Homo sapiens: one gene and its partners. The protein of the gene in region 1 purifies or fractionates together with the protein of each later gene. This does not show direct contact. Each region holds a gene or a part of one and is shown in the gene's direction. Other genes may lie near its edges.

The links.
Region 2: the proteins of TLR9 (region 1) and TPRN purify together in Homo sapiens (affinity purification with mass spectrometry, with the first as the bait; one large-scale study listed by BioGRID). This does not show direct contact.
Region 3: the proteins of TLR9 (region 1) and GTF2I purify together in Homo sapiens (affinity purification with mass spectrometry, with the first as the bait; one large-scale study listed by BioGRID). This does not show direct contact.
Region 4: the proteins of TLR9 (region 1) and PDZD8 purify together in Homo sapiens (affinity purification with mass spectrometry; one large-scale study listed by BioGRID and IntAct). This does not show direct contact.

Annotation. Positions count from the first base shown.
Region 1 is NC_000003.12:52,222,846-52,226,783, reverse strand, and holds the start of TLR9 (toll-like receptor 9 precursor), read left to right. Parts: upstream 1-1,138; 5' UTR 1,139-1,254; coding exon 1,255-1,257; intron 1,258-2,471; coding exon 2,472-3,938.
Region 2 is NC_000009.12:137,194,431-137,197,741, reverse strand, and holds part of TPRN (taperin), read left to right. Parts: intron 1-3,311. UniProt on the Homo sapiens protein: Essential for hearing. Required for maintenance of stereocilia on both inner and outer hair cells. Necessary for the integrity of the stereociliary rootlet.
Region 3 is NC_000007.14:74,734,218-74,737,717, forward strand, and holds part of GTF2I (general transcription factor II-I), read left to right. Parts: intron 1-1,243; coding exon 1,244-1,315; intron 1,316-2,282; coding exon 2,283-2,466; intron 2,467-3,500. UniProt on the Homo sapiens protein: Interacts with the basal transcription machinery by coordinating the formation of a multiprotein complex at the C-FOS promoter, and linking specific signal responsive activator complexes.
Region 4 is NC_000010.11:117,368,941-117,372,440, reverse strand, and holds part of PDZD8 (PDZ domain-containing protein 8), read left to right. Parts: intron 1-3,500. UniProt on the Homo sapiens protein: Molecular tethering protein that connects endoplasmic reticulum and mitochondria membranes. PDZD8-dependent endoplasmic reticulum-mitochondria membrane tethering is essential for endoplasmic reticulum-mitochondria Ca(2+) transfer.

The DNA of each region.
Region 1 (3,938 bases):
GAGACTTGGGGGAGTTTTCAGGCAGAGGGAACAGCACATCCCAAGGCCCTGAGGCAGGAGAATGCCCAGGGGCTACACAGTCAACTGCAAGCAGGCCAGTGGGCCTGGAGAGCACTCAGGGGAACAGCGGGTGGCAGGTCCCATAGGGCCTTGTTGGCCATCTGTGGACTGTGGCTTTGACTCCAGAGTCAGCCAGGGAGGGGTCTGAGCAGAGGAGGGACCTAGTGTGACTTAGGTTTGAACAGTTCCCTCTAGGGGCTGAATGTGACCAGCCCCTGGAGGGCAGAGAGCAGGGCAGGACAGCCAGAAGGGAGGTGGCACCTGCATGGGTCTAGGAGAGAGGATGGGGGCTGGTGGACATGGGGACGGTGGGCTGTGGGCACACCCTTCAGCATGGTGGACCCAGCAGAACTTGCTGAGGGGCCCGGGGTCACCCAAGGCTTTGGGCCCGAGGAATCTGAGTCTCCTCACCTAGATCAGAAGGAGAGTGGGAAGAACTGATGGGGAGGACTGGCTGGCGGCCCTGCTGGGCCAGCACACACCTGGCCTCTAGGAGCCCCATCTGGAGTGACGTGGTGTGTGCTCTGATGGGGCCCCAGGGGCTCTGGGAATGTGGAGGAGGAGGTCTTGTTTCCGGAAGATGTTGCAAGGCTGTGGTGAAGGCAGGTGCAGCCTAGCCTCCTGCTCAAGCTACACCCTGGCCCTCCACGCATGAGGCCCTGCAGAACTCTGGAGATGGTGCCTACAAGGGCAGAAAAGGACAAGTCGGCAGCCGCTGTCCTGAGGGCACCAGCTGTGGTGCAGGAGCCAAGACCTGAGGGTGGAAGTGTCCTCTTAGAATGGGGAGTGCCCAGCAAGGTGTACCCGCTACTGGTGCTATCCAGAATTCCCATCTCTCCCTGCTCTCTGCCTGAGCTCTGGGCCTTAGCTCCTCCCTGGGCTTGGTAGAGGACAGGTGTGAGGCCCTCATGGGATGTAGGCTGTCTGAGAGGGGAGTGGAAAGAGGAAGGGGTGAAGGAGCTGTCTGCCATTTGACTATGCAAATGGCCTTTGACTCATGGGACCCTGTCCTCCTCACTGGGGGCAGGGTGGAGTGGAGGGGGAGCTACTAGGCTGGTATAAAAATCTTACTTCCTCTATTCTCTGAGCCGCTGCTGCCCCTGTGGGAAGGGACCTCGAGTGTGAAGCATCCTTCCCTGTAGCTGCTGTCCAGTCTGCCCGCCAGACCCTCTGGAGAAGCCCCTGCCCCCCAGCATGGTAGGACAACAGCTCTCAGTCCCCTGGGGAAGGGGATATCCTGGGAAGGGGTGGGGAAAGAAGTGGGCTTGGCAGCTGCAAGCAACAGTGACGGGTTGTCACCCACATGGCCCTGGGGACACTCACTGAATCCTGAAGACTTCAGAGCCGAAGCCCTCTTCTTTTTTCTTTTTTTTTTTTTTTGAGACGGAGTTTCGCTCTTGTTGCCCAGGCTGGAGTGCAGTGGCTTGATCTCAGCTCACTGCAATCTCCACCTCCCGGGTTCAAGTGATTCTCCTGCCTCAGCCTCCCAAGTAGCTGGGATTATGGCTTGCGCCACCATGCCTGGCTAATTTTGTATTTTTAGTAGAGCCAGGGTTTCTCCATGTTGGTCAGGCTGGTCTTGAACTCCAGACCTCAGGTGATCTGCCCACTTCGGCTTCCCAAACTGCTGGGATTACAGGTGTGAGCCACCGTGCCCAGCCACTGAAGCCCTCTTCTGAGCAATGAGACCCAAACCCCCAGAGGGGACGAGGAGACTGAGGCACTGATGGAGCTGGGGCTGGAGCCTGGGTTTGGGTCTCACTGGGCCTGTAGCTTGGGGCTGGCTCTGTCTGGCACTTTGCAGGCCACCCCTCTCTCCATCTGTTCTGACCCATAAGGCAAAGGCTCTCGGGCTAGGTGAGGCAGGCAGAGAGTGATGGAGCTGTGCAGTGCCCTCTGGCCAGGGTCCCTGGGAGGCAGCCGGCCTGGGCCATAGTGGGAGACTCTCACACCTGCCTGAATCTTGGCCGAAGGAAAAGGAAGGGGTTGTGGGGTGGCTGGTGGAGGGCAGAGAGCGGATTTCAGGGCAGCTGGAGGGGAGGGAGCCAGCTGCCACCTTGCTCAGGAGCAGGAAGGGAAAGTCGGGGAGAGACCAGGGGGGGCCGTGGGCCACCTTGCCTGGCCTGGTATAGCCAGGGATTGGTTAAGTGAAAGCTGTAGATCATAAGTCTGGATTCTAGGTCTCAGTCCTGGTTCTGAAGCCTAATTCTGAGTCCAAGACTGGGTCTGAGACTGAGTTCAGGTTCCCCACAAGCCATGGGGGATGGGAATGGGGCTTGGCAGCCAGGAAGAACTTCTGCAGGTAGGGCTTGGAGAGAGGGGTTGGAAGATGCTAGAAGATGCCCATGAAGTGGAGTGGGTGGAGGTAGAGCTGGGGGCCGGCCACTCACACAGCCCTCCCACCCCCACAGGGTTTCTGCCGCAGCGCCCTGCACCCGCTGTCTCTCCTGGTGCAGGCCATCATGCTGGCCATGACCCTGGCCCTGGGTACCTTGCCTGCCTTCCTACCCTGTGAGCTCCAGCCCCACGGCCTGGTGAACTGCAACTGGCTGTTCCTGAAGTCTGTGCCCCACTTCTCCATGGCAGCACCCCGTGGCAATGTCACCAGCCTTTCCTTGTCCTCCAACCGCATCCACCACCTCCATGATTCTGACTTTGCCCACCTGCCCAGCCTGCGGCATCTCAACCTCAAGTGGAACTGCCCGCCGGTTGGCCTCAGCCCCATGCACTTCCCCTGCCACATGACCATCGAGCCCAGCACCTTCTTGGCTGTGCCCACCCTGGAAGAGCTAAACCTGAGCTACAACAACATCATGACTGTGCCTGCGCTGCCCAAATCCCTCATATCCCTGTCCCTCAGCCATACCAACATCCTGATGCTAGACTCTGCCAGCCTCGCCGGCCTGCATGCCCTGCGCTTCCTATTCATGGACGGCAACTGTTATTACAAGAACCCCTGCAGGCAGGCACTGGAGGTGGCCCCGGGTGCCCTCCTTGGCCTGGGCAACCTCACCCACCTGTCACTCAAGTACAACAACCTCACTGTGGTGCCCCGCAACCTGCCTTCCAGCCTGGAGTATCTGCTGTTGTCCTACAACCGCATCGTCAAACTGGCGCCTGAGGACCTGGCCAATCTGACCGCCCTGCGTGTGCTCGATGTGGGCGGAAATTGCCGCCGCTGCGACCACGCTCCCAACCCCTGCATGGAGTGCCCTCGTCACTTCCCCCAGCTACATCCCGATACCTTCAGCCACCTGAGCCGTCTTGAAGGCCTGGTGTTGAAGGACAGTTCTCTCTCCTGGCTGAATGCCAGTTGGTTCCGTGGGCTGGGAAACCTCCGAGTGCTGGACCTGAGTGAGAACTTCCTCTACAAATGCATCACTAAAACCAAGGCCTTCCAGGGCCTAACACAGCTGCGCAAGCTTAACCTGTCCTTCAATTACCAAAAGAGGGTGTCCTTTGCCCACCTGTCTCTGGCCCCTTCCTTCGGGAGCCTGGTCGCCCTGAAGGAGCTGGACATGCACGGCATCTTCTTCCGCTCACTCGATGAGACCACGCTCCGGCCACTGGCCCGCCTGCCCATGCTCCAGACTCTGCGTCTGCAGATGAACTTCATCAACCAGGCCCAGCTCGGCATCTTCAGGGCCTTCCCTGGCCTGCGCTACGTGGACCTGTCGGACAACCGCATCAGCGGAGCTTCGGAGCTGACAGCCACCATGGGGGAGGCAGATGGAGGGGAGAAGGTCTGGCTGCAGCCTGGGGACCTTGCTCCGGCCCCAGTGGACACTCCCAGCTCTGAAGACTTCAGGCCCAACTGCAGCACCCTCAACTTCACCTTGGATCTGTCACGGAACAACCTGGTGACCGTGCAGCCGGAG
Region 2 (3,311 bases), on another chromosome or scaffold:
TCAGTCTGATAGCCACAGCCTCTCTCCTCCAGCTCCTGTCTGCCTCTCCCTCCCCTGCGTCTGTACCTTTGGCCCTGGCTGCTGTGTGAGGTGGGCACCTCCTGGGCTTGCCCCAGAGGTGGCAGTGGGGACAGCTCCCCCTTTGTAGAGAGAAACTGCGCCTCAGCTTGGGAGTCAGACGGGGTCATGGGGCTTGTGGGGCGAGTACGGAGTTCAGGTTTCTGTTTCTAGAACCCCTCCCCTTAACCTGTGTGGCCATCCCTGGGAGCCTGGCTTCTTCCTGGGACTTGAGGCCACTGCCTAGAGTCTGGCCATCTTGCCCTCAGAAGGGACAGAACTGGGCTGGGCGCGGTGGCTCACACCTTGTAATCCCAGCACTTTGGGAGGCCGAGGCGGGTGGATCACGAGGTCAGGAGTTCAAGACAAGCCTTGCCAAGGTGGTGAAACCCCGTCTCTACTAAGAAGATATAAAAAAATTAGCTGGGCGTGGTGGCGGGCGCCTATAATCCCAGCTATTCAGGAGACTGAGGCAGGAGAATTGCTTGAACCCGGGAGGCGGAGCTTGCAGTGAGCCGAGATCGCGCCATTGCACTCCAGCCTGGGCGACAGAGTGAGACTCTGTCTCAAAAAGAAAAAAGCAAAGAAGGGACAGAACTGTGGGGGTCATTTGCGGCTGGGTTAGGGTCAGAAGGGCAGGGTGGGGGCCGGAGGGCCAACAGGAGCAGGAAGATGCAGTGGGGGAGAGGCTGAGCCTGGGAAACAGGCCCTGGACCAGCAGGAGGGAGGAGCTCGGGCCAGCCTGAAGGGGTGGGGGTCCAGATGGACGATACCTGGCATGGCCAGGTGGCCCGGGCAGGGCCCTGCCAGAGCAGCATGACCTGCTGGCTGTGACTTCCCGCCTGGGTACAGGCCAGCTGCCCTGCCTGGGAAGAGCCAGAATGTCCATCAGGAGGGGACAGAGGCGTGGGGCTGCCCTGCCTTTCAGAATGGCTTGCTGGCCTCGGCACGGTGGGCTGTGGGGCAGGGCTGTCCCATGTACTCTGTGGCCCCTGGGCCAGGAGCACTCACTGGTGGGGGTGCGAGGTGCCCCTGCGGGTCCTGTGCCTGGCCTTGTCTGACCACCCTGGCCAGCCTTTTTTTATTTTTTGTTTTTTGAGACAGAGTCTTGCTCTGTCGCCCAGGCTGGAGGGTAGTGGCAGGATCCCGGCTCAGGGCAAACTTCATCTCCCAGGGTTCAAGCGATTCTCCTGCCTCAGCCTCTCAAGTAGCTGGGATTACAGGCGCCTGCCACCATGCCCAGCTAATTATCGTATTTTTAGTAGAGACGAGGTTTTACCATATTGGCCAGGTTGGTCTCGAACTCCTGACCTCAGATGATCCGCCTGCCTTAGCCTCCCAAAGTGCTGGGATTACAGGCGTGAGCCACCGTGCTGACCCCAGCCTTTGGTTGGGACCACTGGCTGTGACCCCCGGGCGTGGGGGTGGAGTGCAGGGATTGCAGGGCCCGGAGTCTAGCAGGACCTGACTGTGGGCCAACGGCTCACTGTGCACCTCAGCGGCTGGCGGTGCTGCTGCTTTTCCTGGGGTACAGGTGAAGGGCAGCTCTTCAGTGGAGTTGTCTGGGTGGTGGGAGTCGGTGAGGGGCCTGCCCCAGGGCTGGCTGTGCCTGCACAGGGTATGATACCCTTGCCCGCCTCCGAGGGGTGCAGCCCTGCTCTGGGCAGTGGGGAGCTGCTGGCCTGTGTGCCGGGGTGGGGGCCTGCCTGGCAGGCACAGGCCCACTTAAGTTATCCATTGGCAGAAGCGGCAGGTGCCCCGTCTTGCAGGGCTGAGCTTGGAGCAGACTGCTGTGTGCTGCAGCCACGCCCGGGCTGCTTTCCTGGAGGGTGGGACACCCATTCTCATCCTCACACCTGCCTCCCTTGAGACTCGGCGCTGTAGCTTTTCCTCTTCGTGGAGCACCACCTGGCCTGGCTCCTACCTGTCTGGCGGCCCCTTCCCGTCCCCTCTGCCCTACTCCCCTCCTCCCCTCTTGGCTCTCTGCCCAGCTGGAGCGTGTCAGTGTCCCCAGGGCTCAGTCCTGGACACCCAGGGCCGTCCGCCCTCACCTGCTGTGCAACTTCCGCCTCCACTCCCAAGGCCTCGCTCTCTGATCCTTAGACCCAAGAGCCACCCTGACATCTGCCCTTCCTACTGACACCACCTCCTGGCCAGCACCAAGCCCCAGGCTGGGCTCCTCCCTGCCTCTACCCCTGTGCAGGCAGATCCTGGGTGGCCAGAGGCTCTCACTGTTGTTGGCTGAGTCCCTTCTTGTCAGTTTTCCTTTCCTTCTCGTCTCTCCGCCAGCTCTTCCCATAGGTGCCGCCTAGGTGGTCCTTCTGAAGCCGGGAACCCCAGGAGCGGCCTGGACGCTCCTCCCTCAGCTTTCTCATGGGTGGAGGCCGTGCCTGGCGCTGGGGCCACACTTGACTCAGGGAGCACCCAGCTTCCCGGGAGCCTGCTCTGGGCATTGCACTCGTGCAGCCTGGTCTAGGGTCCGGCCACCCGTGGGAGCCTTGGCTGGGGCTGCGTGGGGGATGGGAGGCAGGTAGCTGTGTGCAGGGAGGAGGGAGAGGCGGGGCTGGGCTCAGCTCACACCTCCATCTGGGCAGGTTGGGGCTGGCTGCTTGGCCCTTTGTCCCAGGTGGAGGCCAGGCCCTTTGGTAACCAAAGCTAGGTGTGCACAGGCAGGGTGGGTGGAGCGAGAACAGAAGGGTCCTGAGAAGCCGGGAGGCTCTGCTGGGAGGCTGGGCTGAGCTGGGACCCACCTGCCTGCTCTGTTGGCTGTGCCAGGCAAAGTCCCTGATAGGCTGCGGCCAGGTGCGTGCGGTCCCAGACCCTGGCCACACCCTCTGCCCATCCTGCGTCTCGGGGTCTTCAGGCTGCCCACCGTATGAGTCACGGGGTGTCCTGTCCCCACAGTGGGAGGGGAGGGCTGTGCGAGTCAGCAGGCACCAGCCCAGCTGAGGAGACCTGGGGAGGCAGGACGTGACCAGAGCCCCGGGCCCCAGCTGAGGGCAGACAGGGGCTGCCTGTCCACCCCCCGCCCCGCACCGCCTGGCCAGGCTGTACCAGGCTCAGGGCCCATGTGCACCCAGCCCCCGCGGCCCCCCTGCTGGGACCGGTCATGTGCACGAGTGAGGGCACTAATCCCGCGGCCCTGGCAGCCAGCCCTTCTGTGTTCTCAGCCGTGGGGGCTGGGCCTGGAGGGCTTCGGGGTCATCTGGGTTAGCTCCACATATCCAGGGCGACTGGAAACCCCATTTGCTGCT
Region 3 (3,500 bases), on another chromosome or scaffold:
ACAGAAGTAAAAGAACAATATTTGTTCTACTTTTGATGCAAGATTTATCTGGCATAATGCATTGAACAGTTTATTATTGAAGTCTACACGAGTCAATGGAACAAGCATTCATTGAATGTCCATGATATGCAGGACATAAGAAGGTTTCCTTTTAGAGCATGGAGCCATTTATATCATCTCTTAATTGTTAGATGTATTTTGTTTTGTTTTGTTTTGTTTTTTGAGAGGGAATCTTGCTCTGTTGCCCAGGCTGGAGTGCAGTGGTGCGATCTCCGCTCACTGCAACCTCCCGCCTCCTGGGTTCAAGCAGTTCTCCTGCCTCAGCCTCCCTGTAGCTGGGATTACAGGTGCCTGCCACCATGCCCAGCTAATTTTTGTATTTTTCGTAGAGACAGGGTTTCACTATGTTGGCCAGGCTGATCTCAAACTGCTGACCTCAGGTGATCTGCCCACCTCGGCCTCCCAGAGTGCTAGGATTACAGGCATGAGCCACCGCGCCCAGCCTGTTAGATGTGTTTTAAAATAAATAGAAATATAATTGATTTTCTTGCTTGCTTTTGCTCTGGAGTGGAGTGGAGTGAGGATAAAACAGAATGGAATCACCCTGTTGATATTTACTAAGATAGAAGGACTGCAGCAAGATCATAGCCCTAATCTTCCTGTAGCAAGTGTTACCTGCTAGCTGTTCCTGAATACACTGAGTTTTGCTTTTTCCTAGCTCTAATGAATGTTTCGTTCTTCCTCTTTTTGTACAGTGTCAGCATTGTTTTAGAAATAAATACATTCTAGAATCTTAGGAATAATTTTATTATTGTCTTTTTTTTTTTTTGAGACGGAATCTCATTCTGTTGCCCAGGCTGGAGTGCAATGGCGCAATCTCAGCTCACTGCAACCGCTGCCTCCTGGGTTCAAGCGATTCTCCTGCCTCAGCCTCATGAGTAGCTGGGACTACAGGCGTGCGCCATCACGCCTGGCTAATTTTTGTATTTTTAGTAGAGATGGGGTTTCACCATGTTGGCCAGGCTGGTCTCAAACTCCTGACCTCAAGTGACCCGCCTGCCTCGGCTTCCCAAAGTGTTGGGATTACAGGTGTGAGCCATTGCACCTGGCCACGAATCTTAGAAATAATTTTGGCCATAGGAAAAGGAAAAGTTATACCTCTTATTTTATAGTAATAATGTTTAATAATCAAGTTATTAAACCCATTAAATTGAGAACACTTGTATTACTGTTATTTTGACAGTAAAGGAAGAATGGTATGCCAGAATCACTAAATTAAGAAAGATGGTGGATCAGCTTTTCTGCAAAAAATTTGGTAAGTCTGTTTTTTTTAATTACCCCTTCAACTAAAATGTATTACTGAGTAACATTTTTTTAAATGTTGTTTTATTTTAGGAAAGTAAATACAGTGAATAGGACTCAGCTTTAGTTTTCCCTGTTTTTTTTTTTTGGGTTTTTTTTTTTTTCTTGAGAAGGAGTCTTGCTCTGTTGCCCAGGCTGGAGTGCAGTGGTACGATCTCAGCTCACTGCAACCTCCTCCTCCCGGGTTCAAGCAATTCTCCTGCCTCAGCGTCCCAAGTAGCTGGGATTACAGGTGCCCGCCACCACGCCTGGCTAACTTTTGTATTTTTAGTAGAGATGGGGTTTCGCCATGTTGGCCAGGCTGGTCTCAAACTCCTGAATTCAGGTGATCCACCCGCCTCAGCCTCCTAAAGTGCTGGGATTATAGGCGTGAGCCACCGCGCCCGGCCCCCATTCTATGAATTATCTGTGGAAAGTTATTTCCTTTAAAATGGCATGCTCGTGAGGTTGAAGGGGTAAAGAACATTGATCTGGTTGCCACGCAGATGAAAGTGTAGTCGGAAATGTGTTACCAGTTTGCCATAGCCGATGGAGGAGGGTAATTACGGTCCTGAACAGTTAGTAGCAAAAGGCTGCTTCCAGATAGTATTTAGGTTGTGTCCTCTATTGTCCATGATGATTTTCTTTCTCTCTTTTCTTCCTAAGGATATTGAAAAACAAACTTTAATCTTTTAAAGATCTCAGAGCTATTAAGATTGTCTTAGGACCAGGACACTTAAATCTGCCCAAATCTGGCTGTTGATGATCGGTCATCTCTACTTGTCTTTGCTGTATTAAGTCTATTCAATAGTTAATAAATATGTTTCTAGAAAGAGTTTTTTTCAAGTAAAACAAAATTGACCTGTGCCTTTCTTTGGATTGTACTAAAATCTGATTTCAATACAAATGTAGTCTCCCGAATTGCTTTGATTTTTGTCCAGCGGAAGCCTTGGGGAGCACTGAAGCCAAGGCTGTACCGTACCAAAAATTTGAGGCACACCCGAATGATCTGTACGTGGAAGGACTGCCAGAAAACATTCCTTTCCGAAGTCCCTCATGGTATGGAATCCCAAGGCTGGAAAAAATCATTCAAGTGGGCAATCGAATTAAATTTGTTATTAAAAGGTAAGATGATAATCTGTAGAAATAGTTTCAGTGTCTTCCCTGAGAAGAGGTTAATTTGATGAAGAAGGGCCTTTTGTTTACCTTATGACTTATTTCTATTGACAATGAAGGCATTAATATTTAGATTCACTTAGTGAACAAATATTAGTATAAGCATCAGATGTGCAAAATTGGGTCTAACAAGAACACTGTCCTTGGGGCCTTCATACAAAGAAAAATGCACTGAAGGCCGGGCGCGGCAGCTCACGCCTGTAATCGCAGCACTTTGGGAGGCCAAGGCAGGTGGATCACTTGAGGTCAGGAGTTCAAGACTAGCCTGGCCAACATGATGAAGCCCCATCTCTAGTAAAAATACAAAAATTAGCTGGAAGCGGTGGTGCAAGCCTGTAGTCCCAGCTACTCGGGAGGCTGAGGTTGGAGAATCACTTGAACCCTAGAGGCGGAGGTTGCAGTGAGCCGAGATCGTGCCACTGCACTCCAGCCTGGGCAACAGAGCGAGACTCCATCTCAAAATAATTAAAAAAAAAAAATAGAAAAATGCAATGAAGTGTTATTGAGCGTTTTTAAGGGAGAAGGCAAGGATGGCACACCCAGCTCGGTCACTTGTGCATCCAGAAGAGATGGAAGGTGTTTCAAGTGAAGGAAATCATATGAGTAGGGGGAGGAGGTGGCAAATATGCCTGCGTATCCACAGAACTCACCCACCGTGTGTGGAGTGAGGACTGCCACGTGGGCGTGGTGGGGTTGCATGGATCGACTTGGGTGGGCAAGTGGAGGAAGGCCTGAGATCCTACGAACACAGAGGCAGTCACGAAGTGGTCTCGAGGCAGATGCCTCTGAAAATAATGTGGATCCGCCCTTTAGAAAGGTAATTCTGGCTTGATTTTGAAGGATAACACAATGGTTAGTTTGGGTGCGGGGTTAGGAACAGAAGGCCTCTCTCCACTCATTGACGGGATGTGGAAGGGTAAACCTTCCTTACTGATTGGGGTCATGCCTCTGTGTGTTTGTTGGGACTGAGTTATAAGGGATAG
Region 4 (3,500 bases), on another chromosome or scaffold:
GAGATTACATATCATTTTGAGATTTTTTTTTTAATGTAGACTTGGAATTTAGGTAAATCTGAAGTAAGTTATGAATAAGTTATGGAGGCATTGAGAAGTTTATTACTTTGAAAAACTATTATCTGTATCATTGAATAACAACCATTTAAAAGTATGGCAAAATTGCTTTTCACTTTGAAGGGATTTTTTTAAAAACAGCATGAATTTGGTTATGATATTTCAACTTCTAAATGTGAAGCATTAAATGATCATTTCCAGAAGTATGCACATCTGTGCTATTTATACTGGATGGCATCTCAATGCTCAGTCAGCTGCACAGAGCATATCACTCAATCTGTAAATGTTTATTGTACACCTGCTATATGCTTATCCTTGTTGTAGATGCTGGGATTTCAGTACTGAACAATACTTGAACTCAGCCCTCAGGAAGCTTAGAGTCTAGTGAGAATTGAATTAGCTATACTTAGTAATTTTTTTGTGTTTTTCGTTTGTTTGTTGAGACAGGATTTTGTTCGGTTGCCCAGAGCTGGAGTACAGTGTCAGGATCATGGCTCACGGCAGCTTCGACCTCCTGGGCTCAAGCAATCCTCCCATCTCAACCTTCCAAGTAGTTAGGACCACAGGTGTGTGCCACCACTCCTGGCTAATTAAAAAAAAATTTTTTTTGTAGAGATAGGTCTTGCTTTGTTGCCCAGGCTAGTCTGGAACTCCTGGGTTCATTCAAGTGATCCTCCCACCTCAGCCTCCCAAAGTGCTGGGATTACAGGTGTGAGCCACCTTGCCCGGCGCTTTGTAAGATTTAAACTAGAATGGGATTGATGGGGTTGAAGTAGCCAGGAAGCCGGTTTTAGCTTAGTAGAAGAAAATAGCAAGTATGACGATGAAAAGGGCTGCCTCAGCAAGTGATGACTTCTTGTCTGTGTAGCTGTTCTGTCCAGTGTTTTAAACTGGTGATGGGCCAGGTGCAGTGGTTCACGCCTGTGATCCCAGCACTTTGTAAGGCTGAGACAGGCGGATTACTTAAGGTCAGGAGTGTGAGACCAGCCTGGCCAACCTGATGAAACCCCGTCTCTAGTAAAAATGCAAAAATTAGCTGGGCGTGGTGGCGGGCGCCTGTAATCCCAGCTACTCTGGAGGCTGAGGCAGGAAAATGGCTTGTACCTGGGAGGCAGAGGTTGCAGCCAGCCGATATCGCACCACTGCACTCCAGCCTGGGCGACAGGGTGAGACTCCGTCTCCAAAATAAATAAGTAAATAAATAAATAAACAAACTGGTGATGATGTGGGACTGATTCAAGTTTCAGATAAGAATGAATTACAATACATCTAAGATATAGCATACTTCTCACAGGGAAAATTAAACTAGCTAGTGTTCATCTTTTTTTACAGATGAGGAAATGGAGCTCGGAGTAGTTAAATAACTTGCTTAAAGTCACACAGCTTTCAAGTGTTGAAACGCAGCTCTGATAAGGCCAGGCCACCTTTAAACACACACACACACACACACACACACACACACACAAACTATGTTGTTCTTAAGTGATTTATTTTTTAAAAGCATGCCATCGATATAGTAAATATGTGGGATATCTTTCCAAACTAACCTAGAACTCTTGAGAAGAGTATGACTATAAAGCTGATTTTTTTTTCTTAAATTGGTCATTTTAGAGGATCCTTTTAAAAGTAAATCATGAGGCTAAATCTTTGGGTACTGTCCCACGTGGCATTTCTTTTTTAATTGAGCAGAATTGTGTTTCCAAATAGAAGAGACAGGTTTCACCATGTTGGCCAGGCTGGTTTCGAACTCCTGACTTCAGGCAGTCTACCCACCTCGGCCTCCCAAAGTGCTGGGGTTACATGTGTGAGCCGCTGTGCCCGGCCTAGTTTATTCTTTTTTAGCTATCTAATCTTCTTAGTAGAGCTAAAGCAGTAAAGAGAATTGTATGGAGTCTTACGATCCTTTGGCATTTGTAATCATTACATAACAAATATCTTGCCAGTTAACGTTGTTATTACTTCTTTCCCCCTTCATTTATTTTGCCTTTTTCGTGTTGCTAAAGTGAATCAGCCTCTCTGGACTGCCAGTTCCTGATGTTTCACCTAGAGATGCTAAGTTGCTCAAGTGGTTGCTTTCTAAGGACCCAGCTGACTGACATTTCATTTTACCCAAGTTAACAAACTTACAATGTTTGTAAAACATTTTATTTTACAAAATGAATTATAATATGTAGACAATATGTTTACAGATTTATTCAAGTTAGGAATTTCATTCATCCACCTCAATGTTAATTGGTTTGATTTTTTAATTAAAATAGTATATTATAATAGCAATATATTTTTTTAAATGAACCTCAGAATCCATCCTCAAGGGAGAAAGATTACCACTAATGTTCTTTTACTACGTGGATAATTCATCTTAAACATGGAGTCTGAGTAATAGTGTCTGGGTGGGGAGCTCTGTTTAGGGTTTAGGAGTCAAATATTTGAGATTCTTACGGATGCTTGTGTTCCTGGAGTATTATTGTATATAGACAAGCAGATTCAGTTTGCAGGTACTTTTAATTTGGCCTGCACTGTTTAAAAAATGGAAAATTCTGTGTGTTTTGGATTTGTGGCTTCTGTTAGGAAAAATTGGAATATCTTGTAGCGCCAGTGCTGCATTTCTCAGAGCAACAACAGGATGGAGAGATGGACTGTAGTAGCAGCTTTGGGGTTGAAACTCGGTGTGTAAGCTCCTAGGTGGAGTTTATAGTCCCCCCTTATTTGCTGTGCTTAATTGATGGTACTTGCCTGGCTTGGAGTTATATGAATTTGAGACCCGTACTGGAGGAGTAAATAGGGAGCATTACTGTTGCTGATTAGTGAAAATGAGAAGACTTAATAGCTGGAGTGGAGAGGGAGAGTGATCATTTTTATCCTTCTTTTAATTACATTTTTGAAGGGACTGTCATAGAGCAATTTTATTTTTTAAAAGACATTGTTGGCCAGGTGCGGTGGCTCACTCCTGTAATCCCAGCACTTTGGGAGGGCAAGGCAGGCGGATCACTTGAGGTCAGGAGTTCGAGACCAGCCTGGTCAACATGGCGAAACCCCATCTTTACTAAAAATACAAAAATTAGCTGGGCATGGTGGCACATGCCTGTAATTCCAGTTACTCAGGAGGCTGAGGCAGGAGAATCGCTTGAACCCGAGAGGCAGAGATTGCTGCAAGCCGAGATCATACCACTGCACTCCAGCCTGGGCAACAGAGCAAGACTCTATCTCAAAAAGTAAAAATAAATAAATAAATAAATAAAAGACATTGTCAGGCCTGGCGTGGTGGCTGATGCCTGTAATCTCAGCACTTTGGGAGGCCAAGGTGGGTGGATCACTTGAGGTCAGGAGTTCGAGACCAGCCTGGCCAACATGGTGAAACCCCGCTTCTACTAAAAATGGCACGCACCTGCAGTCCCAGCTGCTGGGGATGCTGAGGCATGAGAATTGCTTGAACCCAGGAGGCG